Linked DNA regions of Homo sapiens. The protein of the gene in region 1 purifies or fractionates together with the protein of each later gene. This does not show direct contact. Each region holds a gene or a part of one and is shown in the gene's direction. Other genes may lie near its edges. The genes, in order: MEPCE, PRPF3, SART3 and TRA2A.

Region 1 (7,134 bases):
TTTTCTATTAAGCCAGACATGAAAGAGATTTGCAAAAATGTAAACCACCACCATTCTTCATGCTAAATTTTCTTTTGTTTAGGAGAATGTATTTTTCATAAAAACCTGTTTAGGTTAACATATTTATTATTGTTATTTCTAATCAAACTTTAAATGTTTCTGAATTTTAATTTCTAAAATGTTAGTATCAACAGATACAAACCAAATAAAAGCTCTTTGGAGTCCTCCATAAATTTTAAGGGTATAAAAGGGTTCTCAAACCAAAAAGTTTGAGAACTGACCTAGTGAAATAACTTGTCAGTATTGCCAATACTTTTTTAAATAAACAGTAATTCTCTCTCCCCACACACCATTCAGAATGTGTTCCCAAATTTCCTCTTCCTAACCATCCAATCATTCCCTTCCTTATATTGTTCCTCAAATCCTTGGTCTAAGAGAAGTAAACCCTTTAGCATTGTCCTCTAACCCAGACTCCCTGAGCCTCAAAAAAGCGGTATTTAAAGAGTATATTTCAGCCGGGCGCAGTGGCTCACGCCTGTAATTCCAGCACTTTGGGAGGCCAAGGCAGGTGGATCACCTAAGGTCAGGAGTTCAAGACCAGCCTGACCAACATGGTGAAGCCCCATCTCTACTAAAATACAAAAATTAGCCAGCGTGGTGGCAGGCGCCTGTAATCTCAGCTACTTGGGAGGCTGAAGCAGGAGAATCACTTGAACCCAGGAGGTGGAGGTTGCAGTGAGCCAAGACCGTGCTACTGCACTCCAGCCTGGGCAAAATGAGTGAGACTCTGTCTCAAAAAAAAAAAAAAAAAAAAGTATATTTCAAATCTTTTTTAAGCCAGAGTCTGATCTTCCTTTTTGCATTAATAACAGTATGTGGACTCCTGCTTATTTTCATGCCTCAATTAACTAATAGCAGTTTCCTCCCTCCCTCTCACTTTTTCTCCCTCCCTCTCTCCCTCCTTTACTCCTTCCTCCCTCTTCCCTCCCTCTCTTCCTTCTTCCCTCCTTCTGTCTCCCTTTGTCCCTCCATCCCTTCCTCCCCCTCCTTCTCTCCCTCCCCCTCCTTCCTTGCCCTCCTCCCTTTCTCTCTCCCTCTTCCCTCCCTCCTCCCCCTCTCCTTTCTCCCCCTCCTCCTTCCCTTTCCTCCCCCTCTCCTTCCTACCCCCCTCCCCCTCCTCCCTTCCCTGCTTCCCCTCCTTCTTCCTTCCTCTCCCTCCCTCCCTTCTCCCTCCCCCTCCTCCCTCCCCTTTCCTCCCCCTCCTCCCTTCCCCCTTTCCTCCCTCCCTCTCTTCTCCTTCCCTCCCTCCCGTTTCCTCCCCCTCCTCCCTCCCTCCCCTTTCCTCCCTCCCTCTCTTATCCTTCCCTCCCTCTCTCTTCTCCTTCCCTCCCTCTCTCTCTTCTCCTTCCCTCCCTCCCCTTTCCTCCCCCTCCTCCCTCCCTCCTCCCTTTCCTCCCTCCCTCTCTCTCTTCTCCTTCCCTCCCTCCTTCCTTCCTCCCCCTTCCCTCCCTCCTTCCTTCCTCCCCCTTCCCTCCCTCCTTCCTTCCTCCCCCTTCCCTCCCTTGCTTTCTTCCTTCGTGTTTGTGCACAAGCTCAGCAAGCCCGATTTAAAACTTTTAACAAGAAAGAAGAGGCGGGTGGATCACCTTAAGTCAGGAGTTCGGGACCAGCCTGGCCAATACGGTGAAACCCCGTCTCTACTAAAAATACAAAAAAATCAGCCGAGCACGGTGGCGCGTGCCTGTAATCCCAGCATTTTGGGAGGCCAAGGTGGGCGGATCACCTAAGGTCAGGAGTTCGAGACCAGCCTGGCCAACATGGAGAAACCCCGTCTCTACTAAAAATACAAAATTAGCCGGGCACAGTGGCGGGCGCCTGTAGTCCCAGCTCCTCGGGAGGCTGAGGCAGGGGAATCGCTTGAACCCAGGAGGTGGGGGTTGCAGTGAGCCGAGACTGCGCCACTGCACTCCAGCCTGGGCGACAGAGCGAGACAGTCTTTAAAAAAAAAAAAAAAAAAGCCCCAATTCCAAATCCACCTGCAATCCAAAGGGAAGAAGTTTTGCAGAGAAGTTCTTCCCATTTGTGGGGCGCTCCCATTTTTCCTCTCTTCCCTCACCCCTTATTCTCTCTCAGGGATAGCGGTTCAAGTCGGTGTCCCTGAGCCACACGTCCCCCTCTCTCTTCCCCGTCCCCTCCCTTCCTTCCTCCCACCATGAGGGAATCTCCCCTCCACCCCCACTCCTGCCGAGGCCCCGTGATCCTTATTCTCACTCATATCGTTGGTGCCCGCCAGGAGACTGGGCTATTTTTTTTTTGTCTGTTTCTTGGGGGCGACAGATTCTGAGGAAAAAGGGCGAAGGGCTGGTTGTCGCCCTGAGAAAGTTTCTCCTCAGGCAACGGGTGCCAGGACTGGCAGCGCCTAGCACCTTCACCTACAACCAGAAACTAGCTGGCTACCTTCAGGAGCAAGGAGGACCTAAAGGCGATGGGCGGAACCAGCTGCCGCAGCGACTCCGCAAGCCCCTCACACCTCAACCCAGGTTTCCCGCCACCAAGAAAAGGCACGAGGACGCCCTGAGCACTAGCTCCACCCGAGGGCGGTGCGCTCGCGGGGCCGAGGCGCATGCGCAACTGGAAACAGCGTCTGCGTTTCCGCAGCTGAGGTAAATCCGCCATCTTCCACCCGAACGTCCCGGGAAAACTACAAATCCCAGAATCCTCTTTGGTGTCACATATTTTTAGGCGGCGGCCGCGGCGCCTGATTGTTCCTGAAGCACATCTACTAACTTTTCTGTTTCAGACTGCCTTTTCCTCCCTCTTTCCGTTCTCTAATTCCTCCTCTTCCTGCTGGTCTCCTTCACGCCCTCACCTTAGGATTTTGAGACTCTCCTGGACCCCACTGTCACCCCTGCCGCCCTGTCCTCGGCCCAGCACTCCGCTGGCAGGGAGACCGGGCGGCGCATCTCCCCGGGAAAACGGCGTAGACTCGCTTCTTCCTCATTGGCAGAAGCTGGGGGGGCCCAGCGCGGACCGAACCCCCGTCCCCGCCCACACTCGCTGGTATATAAGTCGGCGTGGCGCCGCGGTGGGTGTTGAGAGGCCCGCGAACTGACGGGCCAGTGAGCGGGCGTCGGGAGTGGGCGGATGCGTTGGGGTTCGGGTCGTGGGTGTTGAGGCGGAGAGGAAGGCGTGGTGTGGCGTCTCCAGGTGATTGCGATTGGGGGAAGGTAGAGGAGCCAGAGAACGACTCAGCCGTTTCGGGGGAAGAGGAAGTTGGACAACATCGGCTGTTTTAGTGCTTTTTATTTTTCCCCAATTCAGCAGAGAATATTTTCAAGGGGGGTGAGTTATAATGACCTATCGCGTTTTACTGAGCCCAGTTCCACTCCCGCCCTTCCTTGGCTTTGTAGGGTCTCCCCTCCGCTCCCTCGGAAGCGCTTCTAAGAAGGTGGGCAGAGGGGGGGAGGTTTGCTACCAACAGCTCATGAATAATTCATGAGCCCCGCCCTTCGTCAGGAAGCCCCGCCCCTCCGGATCGCGCTGACGCACGCTGCGTTTACCAAACTTAAGGAAGCGACGTCACAGGCCCAACCCCTAAGACGGGGGGCGGGGCGCCAGTTTCAGCACGTGCTGCCTCTACCCGCGCAAGCCCAAAAGGGTGTGCGCAGGCGCTGCCCACTAGGGGGGAGGAAGGAGGCGGGGTGGGGAGGTTGTTGGATTTAGAGCCGGGCGGAGACCGCTGAGACTCATTCCTCAGGAACAAGGGTCGGGTGTCAAGGAGACCTTTTCACACCAGCTCCCGTCCCCCGCCTACGGTGGGTGGGATCGCGCGGCAGAGACAAAGGAGATCAGTAGGGCCGGACATAGCTGCGCAGGGAAGTAGGGTGTCAGTTTGGGGTGGTGGGCTTTTGCGGGGGCTGTGGGGGGGTTATATTTAAACTCCCAGAGCCGTTAAGTTGGTTCGTAGTCTGATGCGCGCGCAACCAGGGTGGTGGCGGAGTGCGCATGCGTGGTTCCCGGGCGAAGGGAACGCGCGCTCACCGTGCGCGCTCGCGGCCGGGTGGTAGTGGCGGAGGAGAAAGGGGTCGGCGCACGCGCGGTTGAGTCCTCGAGTAGTTCGGGTCTCGCGGGCCTCTTGTTTTGGTCTCGCGGGCTAGTAGGGCGCACTTGGCGGGGAGGCGCTTGGGCGCGAGACTAGGCGTGAAGAGCAGAGCTGCGCGCGCACTCGGGAAAGGGGGGAAGGGAGCAGGGTCCAGGCAGGGGGGGTTAGGCCCCCTGATCCCCCTCGTTACCCCGACTGGCACGGAATAAGGGGAGGAAATGATCGAGATGGCGGCGGAGAAGGAGCCGTTTCTGGTGCCGGCCCCGCCGCCGCCGCTCAAAGATGAGTCGGGCGGAGGGGGCGGCCCCACGGTGCCACCGCACCAAGAGGCCGCCTCTGGGGAGCTCCGCGGCGGGACGGAGCGTGGTCCGGGTCGTTGCGCGCCATCTGCGGGGTCCCCAGCCGCTGCGGTCGGTCGGGAAAGCCCCGGGGCCGCGGCCACCTCCTCCAGTGGTCCCCAGGCGCAGCAGCACCGAGGGGGCGGCCCCCAGGCGCAGTCGCATGGGGAGGCCCGCCTGTCGGATCCCCCGGGGCGAGCCGCTCCCCCGGACGTGGGGGAGGAGCGCCGGGGAGGGGGCGGGACAGAGCTGGGTCCCCCTGCTCCTCCTCGACCCCGCAATGGCTATCAGCCCCACCGGCCACCTGGGGGGGGCGGGGGCAAGAGGAGAAATAGCTGTAATGTAGGGGGAGGCGGGGGAGGCTTCAAACATCCGGCCTTCAAGAGGCGCAGGCGGGTGAATTCGGACTGTGACTCTGTGTTACCCTCCAACTTCCTCCTGGGGGGCAATATCTTTGATCCCCTGAACCTGAATAGCCTCCTGGATGAGGAAGTGAGCCGCACTCTCAACGCGGAGACCCCTAAGTCATCCCCCCTTCCGGCCAAAGGGCGAGATCCGGTGGAGATCCTCATCCCCAAAGATATTACTGACCCGCTCAGTCTCAATACTTGCACTGATGAGGGCCATGTAGTTCTTGCTTCGCCACTCAAGACTGGTCGGAAGCGGCATAGACACCGGGGACAGCACCACCAGCAGCAGCAGGCAGCCGGAGGGAGTGAGAGTCACCCCGTGCCGCCCACAGCCCCTCTCACCCCCTTACTCCACGGGGAGGGCGCCTCACAGCAGCCGCGGCACAGGGGCCAGAACCGGGATGCCCCCCAACCCTATGAACTCAACACAGCCATCAACTGCAGGGATGAAGTGGTGTCTCCCCTTCCATCTGCTCTGCAGGGTCCCTCAGGCTCCCTATCAGCCCCTCCAGCTGCCTCAGTTATCTCTGCACCCCCATCTTCCTCCTCCCGACATCGCAAACGTCGCAGGACTTCCAGCAAGTCGGAGGCAGGGGCTAGGGGTGGAGGCCAGGGTTCCAAGGAAAAGGGCCGAGGGAGTTGGGGAGGCCGCCACCACCACCACCACCCACTGCCTGCAGCAGGCTTCAAAAAGCAACAGCGCAAGTTCCAGTATGGGAATTATTGCAAATACTATGGGTACCGCAATCCTTCCTGTGAGGATGGGCGCCTTCGGGTGTTGAAGCCTGAGTGGTTTCGGGGCCGGGACGTCCTAGATCTGGGCTGCAATGTGGGCCATCTGACCCTGAGCATTGCCTGCAAGTGGGGCCCGTCCCGCATGGTGGGCCTGGATATCGATTCCCGGCTCATCCATTCTGCCCGCCAAAACATCCGACACTACCTTTCCGAGGAGCTGCGTCTCCCACCCCAGACTTTGGAAGGGGACCCGGGGGCAGAGGGTGAGGAAGGGACCACCACCGTTCGAAAGAGGAGCTGCTTCCCAGCCTCGCTGACTGCCAGCCGGGGTCCCATCGCTGCCCCCCAAGTGCCCTTGGATGGAGCGGACACATCAGTCTTCCCCAACAATGTTGTCTTCGTCACGGTAAGAGGGTCCAGAGGCTCTTGGAATAGGGGCCAGGTGTGAAGATGAGATTAAATGGGAATGTAGCAGGGAAGGTTATGACCCAGATCCTCAAAAGAGGGGTCTGGGTTGGCAAGTGAGAGCCTCTGCTGGGCGTCTCTCCCCTCTTATAACCTGGAAAGGTGGGGTGTCTACCTTGGGGCATTGACCCTGGAGTCCTTTGTCATGACTGCAAGGATCTCCAAGATAGAGGAGGACTCTCTTTTTGCTCTGCTCCCGGCTTGGCCTATAATCCACACTGGTCCACCTTCCCTTCCCTTGAAGGCTGCTGCTCACTAGGGAATTTGATCCAGGTGGAACTTGGTCCTCAGATTTACTGAAGGAGCCTGAGAATGGGAGTCAGACATGGAATGTCTTCTAGGGAGGAGATTAGGGTAGCGACAGACTAATACTGGCGTTTCTGCCCTTTGATAGCCACCTTGCTCCTATCAGCGGCTTTTGTTTTCCTAGACAGTTTGTTGAAGCGTGTCAGGAACCCAAGTGGTTTGGCTGTAGATCCTCTCCACATTGACCCTAGATAGTGGGAGAGGGAAGAACCAGAAACTCCTCTGCAGAGAGGAGAGAGTCCTGTGCCCTGCAGAGTCCCCTGACTGCACACAGCTCCCCAGAGAACACTCCAGTTAGGCTGCCTACTGGGATCTTTGGCATTGTGTTGGGTTAAGCCTGAAGAATGGTCTTTTTAGAGGGTTGTGATGAGCTGAGCTTCTAGAAAAGGCTTCCTAAAGGATGTGGCTCTTCATTTCTCTCAGAGAAAGGAAAGAATAGGCCTGAAACTTTGCCAGCCCCAACTGCAGGGAAGGAACCACAGGTCTGCCTTTGAAACCTGGGTTAGTTACCCTTGCAGAACCTGCAGTCACTCCACTTAATGTCTGTGAGTGAGAATAAACACAGGATATGGTCCTGGGACCCTAGCTTTGGAAGACTTCATGGATAATTTGCACCATTTAAAATTACTCAGGCTCCGTCGACCTTTTTTGGCTTACCACCAGTAGGAAGAAGCAGAGGCAGGAAGGTGTAGAGGAGAAAACAAAACTCAAAGAGGGCAGGCACCTTTTGGGAGTTAGTCTGAGAAGAAAGTGGCCACGGGCTAAAGTGAGGCCGCGG
Region 2 (7,842 bases), on another chromosome or scaffold:
CATTTAATGCACAAAACTTTAAATTTTGATGAAGTCCAATTCATCTGTTTTTCCTTTGTTTGCCTGTATGTTTGGCATCATATCCAAGAAATTATCGCCAAATCCAATGTCAAAAAGATACACTCCTGTTCTCCTGTGTTTTCCTCTAAGAGTTTTACAGTTATTGCTCCTTAGTTTTAGGCATTTTTTGAGACAAGAGTCTCACCCCAGGCTGGGCGCAGTGGCTCACATCTGTAATCCCAGCAGTTTGGGAGGCCAAGGCAGGCAGATCCCTTGAGGCCAGGAGTTGCAGACCAGCCTGGCCAACATGGCGAAACCCCATCTCTACTAAAAATACACAAATTAGCCGGGCGTGATGTCGGGCACCTGTAATTCCAGCTACTCGGGAGGCTGAGGCATGAGAATTGCTTGAAACTGGGAGGCAGAGGTTGCAGTGAGCTGAGATCGCAACAGTGCACTCCAGCCTGGGGGATAGAGCGATACTGTGTCTCCGAAAAAAAAAAAAAAAAAAAAAAAAGAGTCTCACTCTGTGGCCCAGGCTGGAGTGCAGTGGGATAATCTTGAGTCACTGCAACCACTGCCTCCCAGGTTCAAGAGATTCTAGTGCCTCCCTCCTGAGTAGCTGGGATTACAGGCATGCACCACGATGCCCAGCTAATTTTTGTATTTTTAGTAGAGATGGGGTTTCACCATGTTGGGCAGGCTGGTCTAGAGCTCCTGGCCTCAAGTGATCCACCCACCTCAGCCTCCCAAAGTGCTGGGATTACAGATATGAACCACTGTGCCCAGCCCTACATTTATTTATTTGAGATAGAATCTCCTTCTGTCATCCAGGCTGGAGTGCAGTTGCATGGGATTATTGATGTGAGCCACTGTGCCCAGCCCTACTTTTATGTATGTATCTACTTATTTGAGACAGGGTCTCCCTCTGTCATCCAGGCTGGAGTGCAGTTGCGTGATCCCAGCTCACTGCAACCTCTGCCTCCTGGGTTCAAGCGATTCTCCTGCCTCAGTTTCCCAAGTAGTTGGGACTACAAGAGTGTGCCACCACACCTGGTAAATTTTTCTATTTTCAGAAGAGACGGGGATTGAGTCACCATGTTGGCCAGGCTGGTCTTGAACTCCTGACCTCAAGTCATCCTCCAGCCTCAGCCTCCCAAAATGCTGAAATTATAGGGGTGAGCCACTGTGCCCGACCTCTAGTTTTTGTATATTTCTTAAATTTAGGTCTTAGATCCATTTTGAATTAATTTTTGTATACGGTATGAGGTAGGGGGTCCAATTTAACTCTTATGTTTGTGGATATCTGCTTTTCCCAGCATCATTTGTTAAACAGACTGTCCTTTCCACATTGAATAGCCTTGGCACCTTTGTCAAAAATCAGCTGACCATGGCCAGGTGCAGGGGCTCATGCCTGTAATCCCAGCATTTTGGGAGGCTGAGGTGGGCAGATCACGAGGTCAAGAGTTTGAGACCAGCCTGGCCAATATGGTGAAACCCCTAATAAAAATACAAAAAAATTAGCTGGGCATGGTGGCATGCGCCTGTAGTCCCAGTTACTCGGGAGGCTGAGGCAGGAGAATTGGTTGAACCCAGGAGGTGGAGGTTGCAGTGAGCCAAGATTGAGCCACTGCACTCCAGCCTGGGCAACAGAGGGAGATTCCGTCTAAAAAAAAAAATGTCGAGCACGGTGGCTTATGCCTGTAATCCCAGCACTTTGGGAGGCCGAGGCAGGCAGATCGCCTGAGGTCCAGAGTTCGAGACGAGCCTGACTAACATGGAGATACCCCGTCTCTACTAAAAATACAAAATGAGGCCGGGTGCAGTGGCTCACGCCTGTAATCCCAGCGCTTTGGGAGGCCGAGGCGGGCAGATCACGAGGTCAGGAGATCTAGACCATCGTGGCTAACACGGTGAAACCCCGTCTCTACTAAAACCACAAAAAATTAGCCGGGCGTGGTGGCACACACCTGTAGTCCCAGCTACTCAGGAGGCTGAGGCAGAAGAATTGCTTGAACCCAGGAGGCGGAGGTTTCAGTGAGCTGAGACTGTGCCACTGCACTCCAGCCTGGGCAACAGAGCGAGACTCGTCTCAAAACAAAGAAGAAAAAAAATACAAAATTAGCCTGGCGTGGTGGCGCTTGCCTGTAATCCCAGCTACTCCAGAGGCTGAGGCAGGAGAATTGCTTGAACCTGGGAGGCGGAGGTTGCGGTGAGCCGAGATCGCGCCATTGTACTCCAGCCTGGCCAATGAGAGCGAAACTCCATCTCAAAAAAGAAAAAGAAAAAAAATACAGCTGACCATATATGTGAGTGTTTATTCTGGGCTCTCTATTCTTCCTTTTTTTTTTTTTTTTTTTTGAGACAGAGTCTCGTTCTGACACCAGGCTGGAACGCAGTGGTGCAATCTCGGCTGGCTGCAACCTCCACCTCCCGGGTTCAAGTGATTCTCCTGCCTCAGCCTCCGGAGTAGCTGGGACTACAGGCGCGTGCCACCACGCCCAGCTGATTTTTGTATTTTTAGTAGAGACGGGGTTTCACCATGTTGGCTAGCATGGTCTCGATCTCTTGGCCTCGTGATCTGCCCACCTCGGCCTCCCAAAGTGCTGGGATTACAGGCGTAAGCCACCGCGCCCGACCCTCTATTCTCTTTTGTTGGTTTACCTGCCTGTTCTTACGCCAGTACCACACTGTGTCTTACACATTACATTTAATCCTCACGATACCTTTTTGAAGTAGAGATTCTTATTCTATAATTGAGGAAACAATCTCAGAAAAAATTACCTGAAGGAAACACAGCTAGTAACCGGAAAGCTACAGTTTAAATGTATCCAATTCTAAAAATTGGAAATAAAATCAGTTTTGTTTTGTCGAGATGGAGTCTCCCTCTGTCGCCCAGGCTGCAGTGCAGTGGCGCGATCTTGGCTCACTGCAACCTCCACCTCCCGGGTTCAAGCAATTCTCCTGCCTCGGCCTCCTGAGTAGCTGGGATTACAGGTGCCCACCACCACACCCAGCTAATTTTTGCATTTTTTTTAGTAGGGATGGGGTTTCACCATGTCGGCAGACTGGTCTCAAACTCCTGACCTCAAGTGATCCACCCGCCTCGACCTCCCAAAGTGTTGGGATTACAGGCGTAAGCCACCACACCTGGCCTAAAACCAGTTTCTAGAAACACATTTCTCCATAGGGAATTGAACGCAGACTGTTAGAAGCACCAAAACAAAATAAATTTACAACAACCCTGCAATGTTGAAACTCATTAACCCATTCAACAGACTTTTTGAGTGAATATTTTGTGAGACATTGGTGTTAGAAGCTGTAGGTGGGGAAACTGATTTGTGAATAAGTTGAGCAGTAGGTTCAAACTCCCCCAACTTGTTCCTTCAGAGCCAGGCTTTATCCTGTTATGTCGTGCTGCCCCATCAGGGAAGGTGGGGCTTGGTATGTACATTGTTATCTTTAGATACAAAAATCTCCTACTATCTGGGGAATGTGAATAACCTCCCTGAAGAACAACTGCATCTTCTAGTCAGCCTACCACCAAGAAGACATTTTGGAACTTTAGTTTGGATAGTTTATAATATAAAAATAATGGAATTTTTTCCATTTCTCATATAAGAAATTGTGTCATAATACTGGACAATCTTTTTCCAAACTATCTTTGTCCACACACATGTTGTTATGAATCATCGATTTAAAGAGTCAGTAGGGGCCGGGCGCGGTGGTTCAACCCTGTAATCCCAGCACTTTGGGAGGCCGAGGTGGGCGGATCACGCGGTCAAGAGATGGAGACCATCCTGGCCAACATGGTGAAACCCCGTCTCTACTAAAAATACAAAAGTTAGCTGGACGTGGTGGTCGCGCGCCTGTAGTCCCATCTACTCGGGAGGCGGAAGTTTCAGTGAGCCGAATGCACTCCAGCCTGACGACAGAGCGAGACTCCGTCTCAAAAAATAAAAAATAAAAATAAAAAATAAAGGGTCAGTAGGTTAGAGCCTCATTTTGGAGAGAAGTTAATATATAGACCTATTGATAGAATGGAGAAAACAATACTGGTAGGTCTCACTTGTCATTTATTGAGCCCAAAGTGCTGGGATTACAGGCGTGAGCCACGGCGCCCGGCCTGACACCACTGTTAAATTAGGGAGAAAGGGTTTACTTTCTACCAGAAAGGCTGTGTTTGAACACAAACGCAGAAGCCTCGCTCTTCATTCTAGCCTAAGTTTACTTTTGCGCACTTATTCTCCATATGAGGAAAACAGCAAGTAGCCCAATTTCCGCTTCAGGAAGTTAAAGACATTAACTTGGCAGAAATCGGCCGGGCGCGGTGGCTCACGCCTGTAATCCCAGCACTTTGGAAGGCTGAGGCGGGCGGATCACGAGGCCAGGAGATCGAGACCATCCTGGCTAACACGGTGAAACCCCGGCTCTACTAAAAATACAAAAAATCAGCCGGGCGTGGTGGCGGGCGCCTGTAGTCCCAGCTACTCGGGAGGCTGAGGCAGGAGAATGGCGTGAACCCGGGAGGCGGAGCTCGCAGTGAGCCGAGATCGCGTCACTGCACTCCAACCTGGGCGACAGAGCGAGACTCCGTCTCAAAAAAAAAGCTAAAAAAAAAACCTTGGCAGAAATCTAGCTAATAGGTTTAGCCTGGGAAATAGAAAGCAAGGAAATTGCTCAGGGAAACTTTTCGGTTCTGCGACGCATGCGTTCAGCCTCCAAGAAAGTGGCAAATACGGCTGCGCGAATTGGCGGCCCGGCCCTCCTTGGTCACGTGTTGGGAGACAGCGGCGTGGCGGCGGCGGTGGCGGTAGCGACGGCACGCCGTAGGGCGGTCAGAAGGTTTCCGGTTCCGGTGTAACGTTCGGGCTCCGTCTCAGGGGCTGAAGTTTGTGAGGTGAGTAGTGGCCCCGGGCCCACAGAGGGTAATTCCAGTCCGCGCCACTGTGGCCGGGGACTCAGTCCAAGGGGAGGACCGAAGCGGGAGGGTTCAGCGGGAAGGAGTGTGAAAGGAGTACCTGGTTTGGTGGGAGAAGAGGTTGGAATGAGATTGTTGAGAGGAAAAGGGCGGGGGCGGGAAGGAGACCGGGTTGGGAGACCAGCTCTGGGGTGAGGAGTTTAGGTAGAACAAGGTAGAGTAAGAGACTGGTTGGAGTGACGGAGAGAGTAAAAATGAAGATTAGCGGGGGAGTGGGGGGCTGCAGAGGGAAACTCAGGTTGTAGCAAACAAGAGCACGGAGTAAGGAATTCCTTCTGAAGACTGGATTTGGATTCTGCTGCCTGCTCATTGAGAGGAGAGATCATTGTACCTCGCTTTCCTTCCGCACCCCCACTACCCCCGCACCTCGCAGTTATTGTTGAGCATTTGATTAGTGACAAGGCTAATTACCGTTTGAAACTTTTTTATCCATTGGCTGTTTAGTTTGCACGTCATCTTATGGAGGTAACAGTGGCACCTCATTTATTGCTTTGGGCTTTCAAATTGCTTATACTTTCTAGCCTATCATTCAATTCTAGTGGAATATAAGACCCGTTAAGGTGAGGACTCTTGTTAGTTTTGCTCACTGTTTTATGTATCCACCGCACCTAGTACATTGCTTGACACTTAGTAGTTACTCAATAAATATTTATTGAATGAATTAGGATGTAAATATGGCAGTACTCATTTTGTAAGATGGTAAACTGTGGCTCCAAAGAATTACTTAACTTGCCCAAGGGCTTGTAAATGGTGGGGCTCAGTGTCCCAACTGTTTCTGTGTGAACTCTTGTTTTCACTTTCTATGGCATCTGGATATGCCGCTTTTGTGCAATACATGTGTAATATGTAGAAATTGGTACGCTGTATGTCTACTCATTGTGGGGTAATAGAACCACCATAGAATTACTCACGTAACTTGTCACTGAGGCAGAAAATCTTTCAGTCTTAGTTTCATCACTTCAATCTACTAGCTTCCTTTGGATATACCAAAAGTGAGTCTATTTGGCATCAAGTCTTATAGACTCTAGTATAGAGGCTAAACTTACCAAGAATGTAGAAGTTAATCAGACTGGATTTTTTGGAGAAAAGATGTCTTAAAACATCTTGAAAGATGATTCCCAGATCTTTGATAAGTGGCACTGCTGGGAATAGCTGAGCTTGGAAATTGAGGTCAGTCAATTTATTGACTCCCATTTAGACACCTTTTTTTTTTTTCCCCGGGACGGAGTCTTGCTCTGTCGCCCAGGCTGGAGTGCAGTGGTGCGATCTCGGCTCACTGCAACCTCCGCCTTCCATGTTCAAGGGATTCTCCTGTCTCAGCCTCCAGAGTAGCTGGGATTACAGGTGCAGGTCACCACGCCCAGCTAATATTTGTATTTTTAATAGGGATGCGGTTTCACCATGTTGGCCAGGCTGGTCTCGAACTCCTGACGTCAGATAATCCACCCGCCTTGGCCTCCCAAAGTGTTGGGATTACAGGCGTGAGCCACCGCACCTGGCTTTTTTTTTTTTTTTTTTTTTTTTGGAGACACAGTTTCACTCTGTCGCTCAGGCTGGAGTGCACATGATTTTGGCTCACCGCAACCTCCGCCTCCTGGGTTCAAGTGATTTTCCTGCCTCTGCCTCATAAGTAGCTGGGATTACAGGTGCCCACCACCTCACCTGGCTAATTTTTGTATTTTTAGTAGAGACAGGTGCAGTGGGTCACGCCTGTAATCCCAGAACTTTCGGAGGTCAAGGTGGGCAGATCACTTGAGGTAAGGCATTACCTGGCCGATATGGTGAAACCGTGTCTTTATTAAAACTACGAAATTGGCCAGGCGTGGTGGTGCATGCCTGTAGTCCCAGCTACTTGGGAGGCTGAGGCAGGAGAATCAAGTGAACCCAGGAGATGGAGGTTGCAGTGAACCAAGATTACGCCACTGCACTCCAGCCTGGGCGACGGAGTGAGACTCTGTCTCAAAATAAAAATGAGGGTATTCTTTTCTGAGCTGAAGGATCATCAAGTCAGCTGATGGAGACCCTGTAGATTGAACATGATAATTACCTGTATGCAGAATTCCCACTGGGATGAATATGACCACAGAGAAATGTGACAGAACATTCTTTTTTTTTTTTTTTGAGACGGAGTCTTACTCTGTTGCCCAGGCTGGAGTGCAGTGGCGCGATCTTGGCTCACTGCAACCTCTGCTGCCTGGGTTCAAGTGATTCTCTTGTCTCAGCCTCCCGAGTAGCTGGGATTACAGGCGCCTGCCACCATGCCCAGCTAAATTTTTTTGTAGTTTTTAGTAGAGATGGGGTTTCACCATCTTGGCCAGGCTGGTCTTGAACTCCTGACCTCGTGATCCACCTGCCTCAGCCTCCCAAAGTGCTGGGATTACAGGCGTGAGCCACCGCGCCCGGCCAGAACATTCTTAAAGATCATGAGATTTAATTTAATATCTAAGATGACTGACCTGGATAAACCCTCTTTTACTTGCATACCTTAAAAGAAGGGAATCCTACATAAGTCAGGGTTGGGTTAGGGAATGCCTGCCTGGAAGTAGGAAGAATGGAAAAGCTGGCCTCTGGATGGGCTTTTTTAGTTCTGTTTTAGTGTTACTAGGTTTGCAAGTCCTTGTTGATATGACAGGATCAAGAAAGAAGCTAGAACTAATTTCTCAGACTTAGCTTATTCACAGAGTTTGTTTATTCCGCAGATTTCATTGATCAACTTAAGAGTTAGAATTAAAAATCAAATGGGATCTCTTTCTGCTTTGAGATATGGTTCTTGGGGAAAATATTTGCCTTCAAATGAGTTGGAAAAACTTGTCTAGGGATTGAGAATAGGGCTGGGGAATGCATTCCTGATGTACTAACCA
Region 3 (7,021 bases), on another chromosome or scaffold:
GAGGATGATGAGAAAGAGTGGGGCGATGATGAAGAAGGTAAGGAGCTCTTGAGAAATTGTGTTTTGAAACGTCTTAAAGTTAGAGAAGTTGCGAATACAGTATGAAGAACTTTCTTCCCTGAACCGTTACCAGCTTGATACCCATTACCCTTTGATCACTGTTAGGGTGTATGTCTTGCAAACAAGGGGCCCTCTTCTACATGACTAGAATGCAGCCATCAGAGCCGGGGTTAGCAATGAGCTATGGGTTCCCATTTATCCTGATAATGTCCTTTGTAGTGAAAGGATCCGGTTCAGGATGCACTATTGTGTTTAGTTGTCCTGTCTCCTGGATCTCCTTGAGTCTGGAGCACTCCTCAGCTTTTTTTTTTTACTCTGATGACCTGCAGTCTTGTAAGGGGGCAGGCCAGTTGCTGTGTTGTGCCCCTCAGCCTGGGTGTGTCTGATGCTCCCTAAGCATTGGATTCCACTCATGCATCTCGGGCAGGAATAGTGCACAAGTGCTCCTGTGGCCTGCCCATTGAGTCCCATCAGGTGGACTGTGATTCGCTTTGTTCCATCACTGGTGATGACCCTTTTGAGAATTATTTATGCTGATTCTCTACTTATCCCAGGTTTGGCTAGCAAGAGTTCCTTCACACAGGCTTCTATGTCCCTTTGACCTGTCCCCTTGTTCTTTGATCATTTCCTTACCTTCTAGCACACAATACCCAAGGGTCATCTTATACTTTCCATAACTCAGCCCTGGAATCCATCATTTCTCCAAGGTTCCTTTGAGTGATGAGTGGTATTTAGAAGGTGCTAGTTGTGCTCACTGCTGTTGGTTATTGTTCTGAGGCCTGAGTGGTCGAGGGTAGGGAGTGTGTGTGTGTGTGCGTGTGCGTGTGCATGTGTACACATATTTATGACCATATTTACTTGTGTAACTATTTGTATATACTGAAAGTCATGATTTCACACCAATACCTCCAGTTCCGGTCTAACACCACAGGGTTCCCCTTCACACTTGCAATGCCCTTCTCTCTCTTTTTAAAATTTATTTATTCATTTATTTTTGAGACAGAGTCTCGCTTTGTTGCCCAGGCTGGAGTGCAGTGGGGTGATCTTGGCTCACTTCAACCTCCGCTTCCCGGGTTCAAGTGATTCTTGTGCCTCAGCCTCTCAAGTAGCTGGGATTACAGGCATGCACCATCATACCTGGCTAATTTTTTGTATTTTTAGTAGAGATCAGGTTTCGCCATGTTGGCCAGGCTGGTCTTGAACTTGTGGCCTCAAGTGATCTGTCTGCCTCGGCCTCCCAAAGTGCTGGGATTACAGGTGTGAGCCACTGTGCCCAGCTGTGTCACGCCCTTCTCTGACCTTGAGAAACTTGGCTCCCTCTATTCTCAGCATCCTCAGTTACTCCACCCGGCCCCTGTAGGTATGTAATCAACTTCCTGTGCCTGCCTCCCCTTCTCATATGTGCCATCCCCACCCTGTTTGGTCTCCCACACCCGGGGCCAGGCACGGCCCTGCATGGACACCCTTGCTTCTTTCACTCAGGCTTCCAGATCTAGGCTGCTGGGTCCCTGTCACTGCCCCATGCCTGCCTGTCTTCTTCCTTCCATTCAGGCTCTAGCATCCCGCACCACTGCTGCAGCCCCAACCCTGCACAGACCTGCCAGGCTTGGCCCTACTTTTTTTTTTTTTTTTTTTTGAGAGGGAGTCTCGCTCTGTCGCCCAGGCTGGAGTGCAGTTGCGTGATCTCGGCTCACTGCAACCTCCGCCTCCTGGGTTCAAGTGATTCTCTTCCTTCAGCCTTCCAAGTAGCTGGGATTACACTTTGCCAGCCACCATGCCCAGCTAATTTTTGTATTTTAGTAGAGACGGGGTTTCACCATGTTAGCCAGGCTGGTCTTGAACTCCTGACCTCAAGTGATCCTCCCGCCTTGGCCTCCCAAAGTGCTGTTATTACAGGCATGAGACACTGCACCTGGCCTTGGCCCTGCTTTTAATGGTTCTGACTTAGTGGAATTTTCCAGCAGTGTTTCTTTCACCCTTGTAATTTCAGGGACGGGCAGCTCTGGGTCATATTTATTTCAGAGAGTCAGTCAAGGTAAAGAATTGTCTCTGGTGGCTGGGCGCGGTAGCTCATGCCTGTAATCCCAGCACTCTGGGAGGCTGAGGTGGGCGGATCACCTGAGGTCAGGGGTCAAGATCAACCTGGCCAACATGGTGAAAACCTGCCTCTACTAAAAATACAAAAATTAGTTGGCTGTGGTGGCGGGTGCCTGTTTTCCCAGCTACTCGGGAGGCTGAGACAGGAGAATTACTTGAGCCCGGGAGGCAGAGGTTGCAATGAGTAGAGATCATGCCGTTGCACTCCAGCCTGGGAGAGAGAGCAAGACACTGTCTCAAAAACAAAACAAAACAAAAAAAAGAATTGTCTCTGGACTTGAAAGGACTCTGTATACTTTCTTAATACAGATGTGTGAGCCAGAGAGAACTGGGAATGGAGTCATCCATCGTTGAGTTGACCTTGCTTGCACACCTTGTTTGGGCTTTCCTAAATGACTGAGGATGGCTCATTGCTCCACTGGCCTCCCAGTTTGGCAGAATAAGGCAAATGTGATGTGTGACCGCAGTGGTGTGTGATCAGGGCATGGCGTGTGATCAGGACTGTGGGAGATGGCATTGTTAATACTGGTGGAGGCCAAAGAAGGCACTAGTGGGTCAACTTCGTACCAGGAAGACTGTGGGGGAAGAGATGCGGCATCCAGGGGGAAGACCGAGTGACTGTGGCAGCGAGAAGGGAAGGTCTGAGCTACACAGGGAGGAGCCAATGTTAGTACAGCCTGAAGGCACAGCACAGCCTGGCATTTTCTGTGAGCAGCAGATAATTGGGTTTGAACTCAGATGCATTAGAGAGGGGTGGGGCAGTGGTCGAGGAGGCTGGAGTGGTAGGTGGGCCAGTCAGCTGGACCCAGCCCAGGGACACTCTTGAATACAGTAGCAGTGTGCAGGGCTTACGTTGCATTGGAAAGGCAGCGGGTGAACTGATGGGGAGGTCTGTTTGCCGGAGGCTGATGTCTGTTGAGCTTCAGTACTGGCCCTCTGGAGGCAGTGGTGAGGACAGACTGCAGTAGAAGATTGTGGTTAAGCTCTCTTAAGGACACAAGGCCATATTGAAAGTGTTTTAGAAACCACAGATCCTTTGTAGTGCTTTCCAAAATGTGCTCCCTGGGGCACGGGTATCAGTCACTAGGGTGCTTTTCCAGTGCAGATTCTCATGTCCTATCCCAACCCTGCTGATCTGGGCTTTGTAGGAGAGGGGCCCTGGAATTTGCCTTCTGAACTTTGAGATCCACTGACCTTTTGTATAATTAAGAGTGGACAATGGGGATTTATGTTATTACTTCCACTTGATTGAGCCCACTTACCCGAGTGTAATTGGGGCACAGAAAGTCGTGGGACAGGTCAGGCGGATCACAAAAGACTTCTCGGGGTGGTGCTTGCCCCTCCGAGTCTGGTGAGGGAGTAAGTGTCACATGCAGCTGTCACAGCACTTTCACTTCACACCTCTGTTCAAGCTCCCTGAAGAGAAGTAACAGTTAACCATGGCTACTTTTCTTTTGAAAACCTGTAGAGCAGCCTTCCAAACGCAGAAGGGTCGAGAACAGCATCCCTGCAGCTGGAGAAACACAAAATGTAGAAGTAGCAGCAGGGCCCGCTGGGAAATGTGCTGCCGTAGATGTGGAGCCCCCTTCGAAGCAGAAGGAGAAGGCAGCCTCCCTGAAGAGGGACATGCCCAAGGTGCTGCACGACAGCAGCAAGGACAGCATCACCGTCTTTGTCAGCAACCTGCCCTACAGCATGCAGGAGCCGGACACGAAGCTCAGGCCACTCTTCGAGGCCTGTGGGGAGGTGGTCCAGATCCGACCCATCTTCAGCAACCGTGGGGATTTCCGAGGTTACTGCTACGTGGAGTTTAAAGAAGAGAAATCAGCCCTTCAGGCACTGGAGATGGACCGGAAAAGTGTAGAAGGGAGGCCAATGTTTGTTTCCCCCTGTGTGGATAAGAGCAAAAACCCCGATTTTAAGGTAGGTTTATGGAAAAAAAGAATGCCTTTCATCTGTGGTTGCTTTAGACAGGCACTTTCTTCCTGCAGCAGTGATATTTAGGATAGACATGGAAGTTTTACGCTCTGTTTGGATCTAAACTTCCTTGTGAGCCAAGGTCCATCCTGAGCCGGTTGACTGAGGTCTGACTCATGGCATGGCTCCTTCTTGCTGGGTGCTTAGCAATGACAAGGGACTGTGCTGAATGCTTTATGTGTGTCAGCTCATTGACTCCTCATGAGACTCTGTGAATGGTTACTTTTATTCTTGCCGTTTTACAGAGGAAGACATGGAGGCCTGGAGAGGTTAAGTGACTCGCTCCGGTGGCCCCATTAACAAGTTTCAGAGCATGGCTTGGCTCTAGTCTGCCTGGCTGGGCTGCTCATGGGGACAAGGCTGGTGTCAGAGGAGTCAGGTGAGCTGGGTCATGCCTCGAATCATGGTTTTTCTCTGTCTTCCTTCTTCCTATAGGTGTTCAGGTACAGCACTTCCCTAGAGAAACACAAGCTGTTCATCTCAGGCCTGCCTTTCTCCTGTACTAAAGAGGAACTAGAAGAAATCTGTAAGGCTCATGGCACCGTGAAGGACCTCAGGCTGGTCACCAACCGGGCTGGCAAACCAAAGGTCAGAGTCAGAGCAGATTGTGCCTTGTCTTCAAGGCTTGGGCAAACTTCGTTTCTGTATCGGTTCAAAGATGATTTAACCTCTAGAATGGGTTCCTAGTTTGTCTGCTGAGAAACAAAAGTTAATTTCACAGAAAGATCTGCACTTAGCTCTACTTATATTTGGAGTCAGATTAACCTGTTTGTAGTTAATTGTACTAAAAAGAATAAGACACTTGGAAATAGAGGATCATGAATTCACCACACTATGGCCCCTGGCTGTGGGGCTTGGGGGAAGCCCTGTGACCAGCAGCATACGGGCTTTGGGGTGGGCGCCCTCCTGCAGCCTTCTCCCTCTGTCCCAGGCCTCTCTTTCTCTGGGGCCTCCAACCAGGCCCCTTGAGTCCCTCCATTGCAGTGCCTCTTCTCCTGTCTTTCCTTCTTGCCCCCTCAGTCTCCTGCTAAGTCCTTTTGTGCCCCATTTTGAGTAGTAAGTGGTTTCATTACTGTCTACCCACTGCCCACTCTCCCTCCCCTTTATCCAGGTTAATGGAGAGAAAAAGAGGATGAAATGAGGGAGCGGGTGAAGGCACAGAAACACGAGGGCTCACCTGGGCACCTGGGCTGCTGGCCCTGTGTCCCATCCACCTCTTGGTTTATTTGCTGGATTTATACTGGTCCATCTGTCTTTTTCCTTCTTTCTTTCTACTTCTGCAGCACGTACAAGGTGTGCTGAACTTGGAAGGGTTATCTGAAGTTACAGTGCATAGCAGCACTCGGGAAGGAGAGTAGGGTGGGGAAATAAGCCTGTAGACAGAGGATGCGGTGGTGGGGAAGGTAACCTGTTGGTGGGTCGTTTGCTGTGGCCTGGTCTGCTGGTCTCCGGGAGGAAGCCCAGTGCCTGCCCTGCAGGAGGAGGTTGCGTCCCTAGTCTGCGGGATCTGACTTGGTTCTGGATCTTGCCTCTTCCAGGGCCTGGCCTACGTGGAGTATGAAAATGAATCCCAGGCGTCGCAGGCTGTGATGAAGATGGACGGCATGACTATCAAAGAGAACATCATCAAAGTGGCAATCAGCAACCCTCCTCAGAGGAAAGTTCCAGAGAAGCCGGAGACCAGGAAGGCACCAGGTGGCCCCATGCTTTTGCCGCAGACATACGGAGCGTAAGTGCTTGCATGGTAGACTAGTGCAAACTTCGTCCTGGCTGGCACCAGTTCATGGATCACGGGGGGATTAACCCGGGATGAATTAGCTTCCTGTTAGGACAGAAAAGCCAAGATGTGCTGTTCCTTGTGGTAATCACTGTGGTTCCACTGGAGCAAGGCGTCCAGAGCAGGATGCAAGCCTAGGCAGTGACCTCTGCCTGGTACTGGCCAATTTACACTTGTCATTTATTTCAGACAGAAATAAGGCAGTGATTATTTTAAAGTCCCCTTTGCCAGTTGGATCTGTGTGTTTACAAAGAAATCTCATACCCATGTGTGTGCCAGTCTACGGCCCTAGCTATGATCCACATAAGCTGTGCTGTTCGCTGGTTTGGGATGAGGAGGAGATAGCAGAATTGCCAGGTGACTGGTGAGGTCTGAGAGGTGATAGTCACACTGATCCCCTCTGAGTGTGACTGGTGCTCAGGGTTGATCTTTGCCAAAACTGAACAAGGCCAAGTCTGTTGAAGCAGTTTTTACTTCATAAACAGAATTAAGGAGGCAGGGATTATCTTATCCTTTTTTTTTTTCACCTTTTAACTTCTGGTTATATTAAAACTGTCTTGGCTTATTTTCACAAATAAATGAGGGGCCACGAATTGTTGCTTCAAAAGGTCCATTCAGTGTTTGCTCTTTTAGGAGGGGGAAGGGAAGGACGCAGCTGTCTCTACTGCCTCGTGCCCTGCAGCGCCCAAGTGCTGCAGCTCCTCAGGCTGAGAACGGCCCTGCCGCGGCTCCTGCAGTTGCCGCCCCAGCAGCCACCGAGGCACCCAAGATGTCCAATGCCGATTTTGCCAAGCTGTTTCTGAGAAAGTGAACGGGACGCTGGGAGACAGGAAATGCCTTACTTCACTCTGGCCCGGCGGACCTCCCACCACCCAGCAGTGCACTGGGGATGGACAGGCCTGGTGTGCTGCGTGCTCGCAACCACAGATGGCTCCTCGGCTTTAGACAGAAAGGGGAAGGGGTTCTAAGTCAAGAGCCTTTCAGTGCTCCCTCATATTGAGGGCAGTGGCAGAAAAGTGACCACTCTGCAGGCTGGGCCCAGGATGTGGTGTCCTGAGATAGTTTTGTATCTTAAAGACTGAGGCACAGAAGCGAAACGAGAACACACTG
Region 4 (7,021 bases), about 77 Mb from region 1:
GTTTTGGTTTTGGTTTAGTTTTTGCTAACTAGCAGTCTAGGTTTCAACCAGGCAGCCGGGCTCTAAAGTTCTTAGAACATGTTTGCATGCTGTACTATGCTTCTCCCACAGGATACTAACTTAAACTGTGGTGGAGCATGTCATTATTTAATGTTTTGAAATCTGTAAATTTATTTCTAAAATCTGGATTGTGGGAACACTGAAAGAATATCCTCGCTAAAGAATGAAAATGGGCCAGGCATATTGGCTCACGCTTGTAATCCCGACTACTTGGGAGGCTGAGATGGGAGGATTCCCTGAGCCCAAGGAGGCCAAGGCTGCAGTGAGCCATGATCAGGCCAGTAAACTCCAGCTTGGGCAAGAGAGTGAGGCCCTGTCTCAGAAAAAAAAAAGAAAGAAAATGGAGGAGAGGAGGTCTAAATCAACAATTACAGATGAAGTCAGATTAAGTACAAATCTGTAAGGGATGTAAAGCATTTGAATTAACTAGAAAGATGGTATTAAACTGAGGATACTTTTTTTTTATAAGTGAGACGGAGTTTCACTCTTATAAAAAGTAAAGGTTGTTCAAAGAGATTTTCCTCCCCATCTAATTAGAAATAGATAATAATTTCTCTTAGAAGCAAAATTTATTCAAAGAGCTGTGCTAACATTCTTAAATATCTGCTAGGCCGGGTGGGGTGGATCACCTGAGGTTGGGAGTTGGAGACCAGGCTGACCAACATGGAGAAACCCCATCTCTACTTAAAAATACAAAATTAGCTGGGGGTGGTGGTGCATGCCTGTAATCCCGTCTACTTGGGAGGCTGAAGCAGGAGAATGGCTGGACCTCGGGAGGTGGAGGTTGCGGTGAGCCAAGATCGCACCATTGCCCTCCAGCCTGGGCAACAAGAGTGAAACTCCGTCTCAAAAAAAAAAAAAAAAATCTACTAGCCGTAGTAAAAAAATCAATGTACTTTATGTTCTTAGCTCCCACAATTTAGCCTAAGTATTTGCCCTAACATGCTTATACTGGTCCAAACAAGCATTAGGTCATAGCCTGTTCCTCTTCCTTATTTAAAGGTGTTTTTACCTTTCTCAACATTCCACAAATTACTTCCTCCTTCCTTTGTTCTCCTCCGCCTTTGCCTCTTTTAAAAAGTTTGAAGTTACTAGCCAATCAAGACAAATCAGAATGTGAAGTCCCATTCCAGCCAATAAAAAACAGACACAACAGTAAGGTAGACACGTCAGATTATAAATGACCCTGTCTCCTTTGTTCAGTGTACTCTTGTGACAAAACTGCTGACAAGCGTACCCTTTCTACAGAAAATAAAAATGGCCTTACTAAAAAAATGTATGTTCAAGTGCTATTTCTTTACAACACCGAGAAACAAACATTTCTAACACTCTTGTCGCCTAGGCTGGAGTGCAATGGCTCGATCTTGGCTCACTGCAACCTCCACCTTCTGGATTCAAGCGATTCTCCTGCCTCAGCCTCTGGAGTAGCTGGGATTACAGGCGCCGGCCACCATGCCCAGCTAATTTTTGTATTTTTAGTAGAGATGGGGTTTCACCATGTTGGCCAGGCTGGTCTCGAACTCCTAACCTCAGGTGATCCACCCACCTCAGCCTCCCAAAATGCTGGGATTACAAGATTTTCAGGATACATTATGAACATTGCTGGGCTGGAGAGTAAGAACATTTTAATTCAGGCTATAGACAGAAAGCATATCCCAAAGAAGGCCTTGGGTGTACTGTGAATTGTAAAATATGGCTCATCTGCTCTAGTTCTCTTAAAATCTTATCTCCAAATTATTAGAAACAATATATTTATTGTGTATTAGATGAGGTGTTCTAAACAAAGTATTTCTGTGTTTCTTTGATTTTGATTTTAATTTGGAGTTTTAAATAATATTTCCATTCAATAGGCAAATCCAGATCCCAACACTTGCCTTGGAGTGTTTGGCCTCAGTTTGTACACAACAGAGAGGGATCTTCGTGAAGTATTTTCTCGATATGGACCATTGAGTGGTGTCAATGTGGTTTATGATCAGCGAACTGGGCGATCTCGAGGATTTGCTTTTGTGTATTTTGAGAGAATAGATGACTCAAAGGAGGTAAATTTGTCTTTTATATGCCTGATTATAGTACTGAATTAGTGTGAAAAGTTGATTAATAGACTTATTTCTGTAAACATTGCATCCTTTTTTCTTCCTTTTTTTCTTTTTTTTTTTTTTAAAGATAGGATCTTGCGTCCAGGCGCGGTGGCTCATGTCTGTAATCCCAGCACTTTGGGAGGCCGAGGCAGGTGGATCACGAGGTCAGGAGATCGAGACTATCCTGGCTAACACGGTGAAACCCCGTCTCTACTAAAAATACAAACAATTAGCCAGGCGTGGTGGCCGGCGCTTGTAGTCCCAGCTACTCGGGAGTCTGAGGCAGGAGAATGGCGCGAACCCGGGAGGCAGAGCTTACAGTGAGCCGAGATTGCGCCACTGTACTCCAGCCTGGGCGACACAGTGAGACTCCGTCTCAAAAAAAAAAGATAGGATCTTGCTGATTTTGCTCTGTTGCCCAGGCTGGAGTGCAGCCTCGACCTCCTGGGCTCAAGCAGTCCTCCTACCTCAGCCTCCTGAGTAGCAGACACTACAAGTGTGGGCCACCATGCCCAGATAATTTTTTGTTGTAGAGATGAGGTCTCACTATGTTGCCCAGGCTGATCTCGAACTCCTGGCCTCAAGTGATCCTCCCAGAATGCTGGGTTTACAGGCATGAGCCATCATACATGGCCTGTTGTGTCCTTTCTAATTTTGACCTGATTCAAACTCTGCCTCTCAGTGTTAACAATTGGAGTGACTACAGTTTCACTTTTTTTGGTTATGCTCTCTGCTATAGGCATATCCTAATTGAAATCTGGCTGTGTAAAGTGAGCTATATGTGTTTAAATTAATGGAAAAAGTATATGTGTAAGTGTTCTCTTTTGAATAAGCCATAATGATGCTCCAAACAGATGATTACATTAACTTTTAAAAAATAATTCTGATGTGTGGGTTTGATATGTTTAATTTTGTGTCTATAATGAGGAAGGAACTTGTTTTTCTATTCTCTAAATGTTCATTTATCAGTGTGTTCAATAATTGAAAAATAGTACATGGAAAGAATTGATAATTTTTTAGTGCTATTCTTAACTTGCCTAACACAATGAACTAATCAATGTCAATGACTTGAAATAGTGCTATTCTAACATGTTCGGTATTATAAAGGAAGTGGTAGGCTTGCTTTAAGTTTTTGCAGGGAGTCTTGCTGTGTTGCTTAGGCTGGTCTCGGAACAACTCCTGGCCTCAACTGTTCCTCCTGCCTTGGCTTCCCAAGGTGCTAGAATTACTGATGTGAACCACCATACCTGGCCTAGGCTCGCTTACTCTTTACTAAAAGTTGATAGTAATTGATTTAGAAAATTGCATTTTAAAGAATTTGAAGCTCAATACTTTTAGTTTTGTTAGACCTTCTGTCTTTTAAATTAATATATATATATTTGTATATATCTGGAAGTTTTATTAGACCTTAATAATCAGGGTGTTTTTCTTTTCTTTTCTTTTCTTTTTTTTTTTTTTTTTTTTTTTTTTTTTTTTTTTTTTTTGAGATGGAGTCTCGCTCTGTCGCCCAGGCTGGAGTGCAGTGGCGCGATCTCAGCTCACTGCAAGCTCTACCTCCCGGGTTCATGCCATTCTCCTGCCTCAGCCTCCCGAGTAGCTGGGACTACAGACGCCCGCCACCATGTCCAGCTAATTTTTTGTATTTTTAGTAGAGGCAGGGTTTCACTGTGTTAGCCAGGATGATCTCAATCTCCTGACCTCGTGATCCACCCGCCTCAGCCTCCCAAGGTGTTGGAATTACAGGTGTGAGCCACCGCGCCTGGCCAAATAAGGCTATCTTTTAAAAACAGTAAGTTCTTGGCATCTGGTGGGTAGAAGCCAGGAACACTGCTAAATAACCATACAGTACACAAGCTGGCACCCCATAACATAGAATCAGTCTCAAAATGTCAATAGTGCTAAGGTTGAGAAACCCCGGATAACTCTAACAAACTAGTACTTTAGTTTTTAAGTCATTTATGTCACAGGCAGTTTAATGCCTTAATTTGTCAGTCTTATGATTTTTTTTTTTACTGTTACGTATTTGTGATTTATATATTCCTTTTCTCAATTAAGAGATACATGTTATCAATTTAGAAATACTAGGATATCTGAGCTGAAGTAAAAGTTGCAAAATGCAAGCCAGAACAGTGTAATTTTTTTATTATTAATATTTTTTAATGTGAAACGTGTTTATCTCTTGATTCCACCTGTCCCCTTCCACTTCTGGATAAAACTAAAATGGCAGGCCGGGCACAGTGGCTCGCACCTTGTAATCCCAGCACTTCGGGAGGCTGAGGCGGGCAGATCACCTGAGGTCAGGAGTTCAAGACCAGCCTGGCCAACAGGGTGAAACCCCATCTGCTAAAATACAAAAATTAGCCGGGCATTGTGGCAAGCGCCTGTAACCCCAAGCTACTCGGGAGGCTGAGGCAGGAGAATTGCTTGAACCTAGGAGGCGGAGGTTGCAGTGAGCTAAGTTTGTGCCACTTCACTCCAGCCTGGGCAACAGAGTGAGACTCCACTTCATCTCAAAAAGAAAAGAAAAAAAAGCTTAACTGGCAACTTTAAAGACAGGAGCAGTTACTTAGTGGCAGGATTAGAAGTTCCTTTTAGTTCACTAGGTGACAATATGTTACTTAAGGAGCGGGGTGACGAGGCTTGTCAGCTAAATCACAGTTTCTCTTTTCAGTTGCCCAGGCTGAATTCTCAGCTAACACAGGCATGTTGTATGGTTTCTTCTGTATGGCTGAGACTGTCTCCAGTCTTTAGGGACAGGCAATCTGAAGTGATTTGATTTTTTTCTTTTTTTGTTGTTTGTTTGTTGTTTCTTTGTTTGTTTGGAGATGAGGTCTTGCTCTTTGCCCTGTCGCCTAGGCTGGAGTGTGGTGGCACGATCTCAGCTCACTGCAACTTCCGCCTCCCAGGCTCAAGTGATCTTCCCACCTTAGCCTCCCGAGTAGCTGGGACAACAGGTGCGCACCACCATGCCCGGCTAATTTTTGTATTTTTTGGTAGAGACGGGGTTTTGCCCCATTGCCCAGGCTAGCCTCAAACTCTGGACCTCAAGTGATTTGGCCTCCCCAAAGTGCCAGGATTACAGGCATGAGCCACTTCACTTGGCTAAAGTGATTTTTTTTTTTTGAGACGGAGTCTTGCTCTGTTGCCAGGCTGGAGGGCAGTGGCACAATCTCGGCTCACTGCAACCTCTGCCTCCCGGGTTCAAGCAATTCTGCCTCTGCCTCCCGAGTAGCTAGGACTATAGGTGCATGCCACCACACCCAGCTAATTTTTGTATTTTTAGTAGAGATGGGGTTTCACCATGTTGGCCAGGATGGTCTTGATCTCTTGATACCTCATGATCCCCCCATCTTGGCCTCCCAAAGTGCTGGGAGTACAGGTGTGAGCCATCGCGCCCAGCCTAAAGTGATTTTTAAAATCTTTTTAAAATTTGTATTCCTTTTTGACTAACTTCTCCCTGATTCTGAAAATTTCACTGAAGTTTCAAAGTTATTAGTGTGCATATGGTGAAGATAATAATATAAGCTCCTCACCCTGTTTTAGTAAGAAGTACTTAGAGATTTTGTGTGTGTTTTTTTGGGGGGTGCTTAGGATGGGGTGCAGGGAGATCAACTTAGAGAATTTTGATTTTTGGAACTTCAAATGGAAGATGTGTTAAATTTGTTGCAGCTTTGCTTTTGCAGACATTTATGTGATGTAAAGTTCTTTTTAAAAATTGGACCGGGTGTGGTGGCTCATGCCTCTAATCCCAGCACTTTGGCAAGAGGATTTACTTGAGCCCAGGAGTTTGAGACCAGCCTGGGGAAACATAGGGAGACTTGGTCTCTACAAATATATATATGTGTGTGAGAGAATAGGAAAAAAAAATTGTCCCAGAAACAAATAATACTCTCAGAGTTCTTTTCAAAGAGACCAAAGAGACAACTCTTATCTTCAAGAATTAGGCTGTGCAAGGCGGCTCATGCTATTTGGGAGGCTGAGGTGGGAAGGCCACTTGAGGCCACGAGTTAAGAGACCAGCCTGGGCAACAGATCTTGTCTCTACAAAAATAAATGCATGCAGGCCAGGCGTGGTGGCTTACGCCTGTAATCCCAGCACTTTGGGAGGCCAAGGCAGGAGGATCACAAGGTCAAGAGATCGAGACCATCCTGGCCAACATGGTGAAACCCCATCTCTACTAAAAATACAAAAAATTAGCTGGGCATGGTGGCGCATGCCTGTAGTCCCAGCTACTTGGGAGGCTGAGGCAGGAGAATCACTTGAACCTGGGAGGCAGAGGCTGCAGTGAACCGAGGTCACGCCATTGCACTCCAGCCTGTGCAACAAGAGCGAAACTTGGTCTCATAAATAAATAATAAAATGCATTCCATTGAATGGAATACTGTTTAGACCCCTTCTCTACCAAGAATTTTTGTTTTAATTAGCCGAGCATGGTGGCACAAACCTGTGGTCCTAGCTACTTAGGAGACTAAGGCTGGAGGATTGCATAAGCCAAGAAGTTTGAGGCCACAGTGAACTATGATCCACTGCCAGCCTGGGCAATGGAGTGAGACCTCCTTTTTTTTTTTTTTTTTTTTTTAATGACCTTTAGTTTATGGGACACTCTTACGGAGAAATATTTGTGGATACATAAAAATTGTGTAGTTTTTATTAGTTTATTATACTTTTATTAGTTCAGTCTCAATAAAAGGTTGAAAGGCATTACGATAAATTTGTTCTTGTCTGTTTATATCATTTCTTCTTGGCTGCTCACTGAGTCTTAATCAGTGTACTAGACTGCAAACTAAAGAATAAGATTGGGGGCAGGTTATAAAAAGAACATGTATAAAGCTTAGCAAACCCTTTTTAATGTTCTGAAGTCAGTCTTTGTAAGTGAAATCGCT

The links.
Region 2: the proteins of MEPCE (region 1) and PRPF3 purify together in Homo sapiens (affinity purification with mass spectrometry; 5 studies listed by BioGRID and IntAct, with this or other methods). This does not show direct contact.
Region 3: the proteins of MEPCE (region 1) and SART3 purify together in Homo sapiens (affinity purification with mass spectrometry; 7 studies listed by BioGRID and IntAct, with this or other methods). This does not show direct contact.
Region 4: the proteins of MEPCE (region 1) and TRA2A purify together in Homo sapiens (affinity purification with mass spectrometry; 4 studies listed by BioGRID and IntAct, with this or other methods). This does not show direct contact.

The regions. Positions count from the first base shown.
Region 1 is NC_000007.14:100,425,699-100,432,832, forward strand, and holds the start of MEPCE (7SK snRNA methylphosphate capping enzyme), read left to right. Parts: upstream 1-4,132; 5' UTR 4,133-4,320; coding exon 4,321-5,991; intron 5,992-7,134. UniProt on the Homo sapiens protein: S-adenosyl-L-methionine-dependent methyltransferase that adds a methylphosphate cap at the 5'-end of 7SK snRNA (7SK RNA), leading to stabilize it.
Region 2 is NC_000001.11:150,316,693-150,324,534, forward strand, and holds the start of PRPF3 (U4/U6 small nuclear ribonucleoprotein Prp3), read left to right. Parts: upstream 1-4,840; 5' UTR 4,841-4,900; exon of another isoform or gene 4,901-5,446; intron 5,447-7,842. UniProt on the Homo sapiens protein: Plays a role in pre-mRNA splicing as component of the U4/U6-U5 tri-snRNP complex that is involved in spliceosome assembly, and as component of the precatalytic spliceosome (spliceosome B complex).
Region 3 is NC_000012.12:108,523,158-108,530,178, reverse strand, and holds part of SART3 (spliceosome associated factor 3, U4/U6 recycling protein), read left to right. Parts: coding exon 1-37; intron 38-3,625; coding exon 3,626-4,080; intron 4,081-4,569; coding exon 4,570-4,722; intron 4,723-5,672; coding exon 5,673-5,863; intron 5,864-6,544; coding exon 6,545-6,722; 3' UTR 6,723-7,021. UniProt on the Homo sapiens protein: U6 snRNP-binding protein that functions as a recycling factor of the splicing machinery. Promotes the initial reassembly of U4 and U6 snRNPs following their ejection from the spliceosome during its maturation.
Region 4 is NC_000007.14:23,507,972-23,514,992, reverse strand, and holds part of TRA2A (transformer-2 protein homolog alpha), read left to right. Parts: intron 1-1,910; coding exon 1,911-2,099; intron 2,100-7,021. UniProt on the Homo sapiens protein: Sequence-specific RNA-binding protein which participates in the control of pre-mRNA splicing.